2 separate regions of the Homo sapiens genome follow, and region 2 is linked to region 1. The links come from fine-mapping of genetic effects on gene expression. A gene starts in region 1. The other region holds a variant in brackets. All regions are shown on one strand. Distances are from middle to middle. Region 1 holds the start of SUSD1 (sushi domain containing 1). Region 2 overlaps LINC02977 (long intergenic non-protein coding RNA 2977).

Region 1 (2,908 bases):
TTGATTTTTAACTACTTGTTAAGACTCCACAACTTTAGCCCTTATATGGGTGTGTTTGAAAGTGGTGAGATTTACGGCAGGCTCATGGCAGAGAGTAAACAAGTGAGGATATGGGGTGAAGTAGTGGGGTGCCTGCTCTCGGCTGCGCTCCCACAGACATCACAAGCTCAAAGCCTTCAAACCGGATCTTATTTATTTCCTTCTCCCCGACTAGTCATAAAACCTAGTGGATTCCACTCTTACACACTGCCCTCTTCACACTCATTTGTCAATGCCCAGCTGCAGGACACATCTATCTCTATCTCTATCTGTCTGTCTGTCTGTCTGTCTGTCTATCTATCTATCTATCTATCTATCTATCTATCTATCTATCTATCTATCTATCTGTCTATGGAGTCTCACTCTGTCGCCCAGTCCGGAGTGCAGTGGTGCGAGCTCGGCTCACTTCAACCTCCGCCTCCTGGGTTCAAGCAATTCTCTCGCCTCAGCTTTCCGAGTAGCTGGGATTACAGGTGCCTGCCACCGTGCCCACCTAATTTTTTTTTTTTCAGTAGAGACGGGGTTTCACCAAGTTGGCCAGGCTGGTATCGAGCTCCTGACCTCAAGTGATCCACCCGCCTCGACCTCCCAAAGTGTTGGGATTACAGGCGTGAGCCACCGCACCGGGCCAGGACATGTCTTCTATTGCCTGATTCCTGCAGCAACTCCGGGCTGGACTCTTTGCCTTCCACATCCCAACCCAACCCCAATCCCAATTCCACAGAACAGACAGAGATGTGTCAGTGATGAAGTCATTCACTGCTTGAAACTGTGACAGCTTCCCGGCGACCTCCATCACTTGGGTTAGGAGGGCTAACTTCCCTCTGCAGCTCAACGCCCCTCTCCAACCCTCTGCTCTCACTCTAGGTCCCCATTCCCCATTTCTACAACAAACTCCCGCTTAGATTCCTCCCCAACGTCCTTCTCATCCTTGGGTCTTGGTTTACTCCTTCCCTTGGGATGAGTACGGCTGTGATGGAGGTAGGGGCTGGCATCAGCGCGTCCCAAGCCGGGTGTCCTCAGAGCAGCGGGGACTGATGCCAGCCCCTCCCTCCATCACAGCCCTACTCTCTCTCACTCCCGGTGACCAGGTGTCACCTGGTCAAGTGTGTCGCCCCTGGGTGGCCTGGGTCTGCGTCTTCCGACCTCTCATCTGGGCCTTGCGCTGTGGTCACCTCATCCAGCTCCCTTTCACGTCCTGGAAGATTTCCGCCCCTTGCTCCCCTCACCCCTCTCCCCGGGGGTGCCTCCCTGAGCCCTCGAGTGGCTTGAATCCTCCGCAACATTTCCTCCCCAGCACTCTCCGGGGCTCTGCGTCCAGCTGTGTCATTATCCGATGAGTGTCTGTCCCCCTTTGCGAATGTGAGCGGCGAGAGGGCAGCAAGTGCGGAGCCAGAGACGGACGCGGAACGGGCGTGTCCTAAGCCCAGGCCCCGACAAGAGGAAGGACCCGCGCTCTGCGGCCTCCCGGGGACCCCGCAGCGCCCCCCGCTTCCCTCGGCGGCGCCGGAAGCCGCCGGCTGGTCCCCTCCCCGCGGCGCCTGTAGCCTTATCTCTGCACCCTGAGGGCCCCGGGAGGAGGCGCGGGCGCGCCGGGAGGGACCGGCGGCGGCATGGGCCGGGGGCCCTGGGATGCGGGCCCGTCTCGCCGCCTGCTGCCGCTGTTGCTGCTGCTCGGCCTGGCCCGCGGCGCCGCGGGAGCGCCGGGCCCCGACGGTGAGTGCGGGCTGGGACGGGCACGGGCGGCCGGCGGGGCCCCCGGCTGGGCCTCGAGGACTCTGGGCGCACGGACGCTTCCCCGCCCCTGGGCCGGGCCGGCGCGGTGCCGAGGCGTGGGGCGCAGGTGGGGCCCGCGCCGGCCGTTGGAGATCGGCAAGGAGGAGCTCAGAGAAGCGGGGGGCTCCCCGCCGGGCTTCCCTGCCCCCGCCCGACCCCGCGACGCCGGGGGACGCCGGTTTTAAGGCGGCCTGGCCGGGCCCCCAGGGACCTCCACTGCCCAGGAGGCGGGGTGGGGGCTGGGCGCGAGCGCGGACCCGGGCAGGGCGGCGCCCGGGGAAGGGCGGGGAGGCCAGGGCGTTCTGCGGCGCTGTCACGCTTCCGGCTCTGCGGTGGCTTTTGCATGACACATTTTTGACCCGAAGCAATTTTCTTACCACTTTTAATTTTTTCACGTTGTTAGAGAGCCGGATGCTAAATATGGTGAGAAAGACGCGTAAGGAAGAGTACAGGAGTGAAGCCATTAATTCACTCATTCATTCAACAGATGGCCCTTGAACAGCTTCCCTGTGCGCGATGAGGGCGGGCAGTGCGGGCCCTCGTGGAGCTCATTGTCTGGAGGATTTAGACCAGCAAATGTTCTATTTCCAAGCAATCGAGGGAGTTGTTTTTCCTCCTCTGCAAAATGCAGTGTTGAGCTGAGTAGGAATTACACAGAGGATTCAGACACGCAGGGGAGGTGACATTCATCCACATAACTGTAATACAAGGCAGAATGGCATGGGTGCCATGAGAAGGTGTGGGTGGTGAGGGCAGGGAAAGGGGAATCGGTGGTGACCCTTGAGCTGGGCCATCAATGATTGGTCATATTTGGATATGGGAAAATGTGAAAAAGGTATCCCAGCTCATAGCAGAAGGCACTGTCACCTCTCCACAAATGAGTGTAGAATGAATGAATTCCTTCAGAATTCAGGCCCGGGGGAGAAGGGAAGGAAGCACACGGAGGCACCAGAGGCAGAGGGCAGAGTGCCTTGATTGGCAGACCTAGGCCTTTGGACTTAGCTGTGCCTGGAAGCCACTGGAAGCCGTCTCAGGGAGTGACAAGAAAAGTGGGTCTAGCCAGTTCTAGGCGCTTCGGGAGCCACAGGTTACA
Region 2 (2,908 bases), 140 kb after region 1:
AGGGGAAGGTATCTTTTTAAATAAAAATCGTTGCTAAATGGTTGGCTAGTTGTCCTATTAATAGTCATTGAGACCAGGAGCGGTGGTTCACCCCTGTAATCCCAGCACTGTGGGAGGCTGAGGTGGGAGGATCACTTGAGGTCAGGAGTTCGAGACTAGCCTGGGCAACATGGCGACACACAATCTTTACAAAAAATAAGAATTAACAGAGGCCAGGCTCAGTGGCTCACGCCTGTAACCTTTGGGAGGCCAAGGTGGGTGGATCACTTGAGGCCATGTGTTCAAGACCAGCCTGGCCAACATGGTGAAACCCTGTCTTTACTAAAAATACAAAAATTAGCCAGGCGTGGTGGTGTGCACATGTAGTCCTAGCTACTTGGGAGGCTGAAGTGGGAGGACCCCTTGAACAGGGGAGGTTGAGGCTGCAGTGAGCCATGGTCATGCCCTGTACTCCAGCTGGGTGACAGAGCAAGACCCTGTTTCCAAAAAAAAAAAAAAAAATTCATTGACTGTTTTTTTCTGTTAGTGATTTGAAATCATATACTGAATCATATGCTGAAGTCTATTTCTGAACTTCTTCTTTTGTTCTACTGATCTATTTCTGTGCCAATACCACCTACTGTAACTTTAAAATAGGTTTTTGTTTATACCAAGTAAGAATAAGTTACCATTATTTTTCCATTAATTTTTTTTTTTTTTTTTGAGACAAGGTCTCACTCTGTCACTCTGTTGCCCAGGCTGGAGTGCAGTGGCATGATCTCAGCTCACTGTAACCTCTGCCTCCCTGCTTCAAGCTATTCTCCCACCTCATCCTCCCGAGTAACTGGGACTACAGATGCGTGCCACCACACCTGACTAATCTTTATATTTTTAGTAGAGAGGGGGGTTTCACCGTGTTGGCCAGGCTAGTCTCGAGCTCGTGACCTCACGTGATCCTCCCGTCTCCGCCTCCCAAAGTGCTGGAATTACTGGCATGAGCCACCGAGGCTGGCCTGAGTATTCTAGTTTATAACTTACAAGGTCATTCATATGTATATGTTGTTGTGCTTGTCTAGCTATTTTATATTTTGTTATTCTGAACTCTTGGCCTCTATCTCAGCTCCAGCCCCTGAAAGTGCAGGAGTGCTTTTGCTCTGCCAGT[C/T]GGCCTTTTTTGGGAAATCATATCAAGATGGCTTTTCCAGCACAATTACTTCCTAGAGTGTCTGCTTGATGCATGGAAACTCATAGATTTTTGGCATGCCAAACAGAGGGTTTTCCTGCCGTCACTGCTGGCTCCAGCCACAGACTTCAGTTTTCTTACCTGTTAGAGCCTTTGTCCTCTGACTGGTGGAAATGGAGCTTGCTTCTTTTTGTTTTGCCTGCCACTAGTCTGGCAGCCTCCACCTCTTGACCCTTGGGTTTCTTATCCTTGGAATCAGATACGAGGCCCTGTGTCTTCTGTTGCTGTAGAGGACACAAGTCATATTCTCTGAGTGGAGATCTCTCTGAAGCTCCTCTTTCCAGGCTTGTACTGAGGGACCTCTGGACCCTCTACCACGTGGTGTCAAAGCTGCCAAGAGCTGTCATATGCTGGGTCTGTAAATTGACTTTCTCACCTCTGACCAGATGCATTCACTTGAGCGGCACAGAGATTTGGGGGAGTGAAAGGGCACTGTTTCTTTGGGTCCGTGGGCTTGTGTCCCATCCCCTAGCCTTGGGGTTAGCAGGATTCAGAATTTATGAGTGTGGTCTGCAAAAGTCTACCTCTACCAGATGGGGGAGAACCTAGTGTGTGGACCTGAAGGGTTAGCTCTGTGCTTTAGTCCCTGGGAGTGGCCATCTTGAGTCTTGGTGGGCTTGGCAAGTAAGGAGACATTGACCAGATTCAAAGCTTCCAGAGGTGGTGAGAACTCCAGGGCCGAGTAATGGAGAGTACAAAGGTCCTTCTTGGCCCCCATGACCCTTCCAAGCCAAGAACTTGGCAGTAGCTGTGAGAAGCAGAGATAGGGAGAGGAGGTGAGGGGCACCTATAGCTCTTAGCCATGAGTTATGACTCCCTCCATCCAAGGGAGACCCAAGGACATGAAAGGGGACTCAGTTCCAAGGATCAGAGGGAACTTGGGTTGTTTTGGGATAATGACTGTGGCTTGGGATGTCACGGAGATGAACACCAGAATTGGTGTGCAACAGATGAGCTCCAGTACCCCTGATAGTTTGCATGGGTTTTGCTCTGCTGATGATGGTCAGGGACAGCAGTGAGGCCCTCTACAATGCCGCCTTCTGCCTAAACACAGGCAGTGCCCACAAAAGGGGAGCTGTCATTATGGAGCCTAGGAATGGATAGTCAGAGAGCAGCGGCTGGGCAGTGCAACTCCTGCATTGGACAAGGTCCTGGCTAGAGAATGTCAATGTCCACACTGCATGTAGCCCTATCGAGGAGATGATGTAGGGGGCTGTCAGCCTTGGAGACTCTAGCCTAAGTACCCCACCACCACTCTGGCTGGCTTCCAAGGGCACAAATCAGCTTTCTGAATCTGACTTGGCTTCCTGTGATCTGCATTCATGAACATTCTTACTAGAGTTCTCATGGAAAATGAATACACAACTATTTGGTCTGAATGTGTCTGAGTTTGGTGTCTCCAAAACAATTCTCTGGATTAGATGGAGAATGAAGAAACTTCACAAAGGCAAAAGGACAGGTCCCCATCTCGACCCCCAGAGACCACTTCTCAGAGTCTCTATCTGTTCGTCTCTGGTGTTAGCCACGTTCCTTTACTTTCCCTCATTTCTGTGGCCACTCCTGTGGCTTCCTCTCTTTCAACCTGCAGGCTGCTGCTGCCCTGCCTCAGACCCTTGTAGGCTTCTGTAGAGATGCTACTCAGATGGGGGTGGAGCTAGATGCAGAGCTGAAACCCACCTAGGAGATCTA

The links. PIP is the estimated chance that this variant, and not a neighbour inherited with it, causes the effect.
Region 2: its variant is fine-mapped to the expression of SUSD1 in whole blood (INTERVAL, PIP 0.95).

The regions. Positions count from the first base shown.
Region 1 is chr9:112,173,980-112,176,887 of GRCh38, reverse strand. It overlaps SUSD1 (sushi domain containing 1), which reads left to right and starts at 1,591. Exons shown (of 17, transcript NM_022486.5): 1 at 1,591-1,755. The coding sequence starts at 1,653. It also overlaps the pseudogene RPL29P20. RefSeq lists a silencer at 1,473-2,132.
Region 2 is chr9:112,033,991-112,036,898 of GRCh38, reverse strand. The region is part of intron 1 of LINC02977 (long intergenic non-protein coding RNA 2977); the gene reads left to right. Among named protein-coding and RNA genes, the nearest start is that of LINC02977, 5.0 kb to the left of the region's middle. RefSeq lists enhancers at 904-1,003, 2,574-2,663. The variant C/T (reference allele first, on the strand shown) is at 1,142.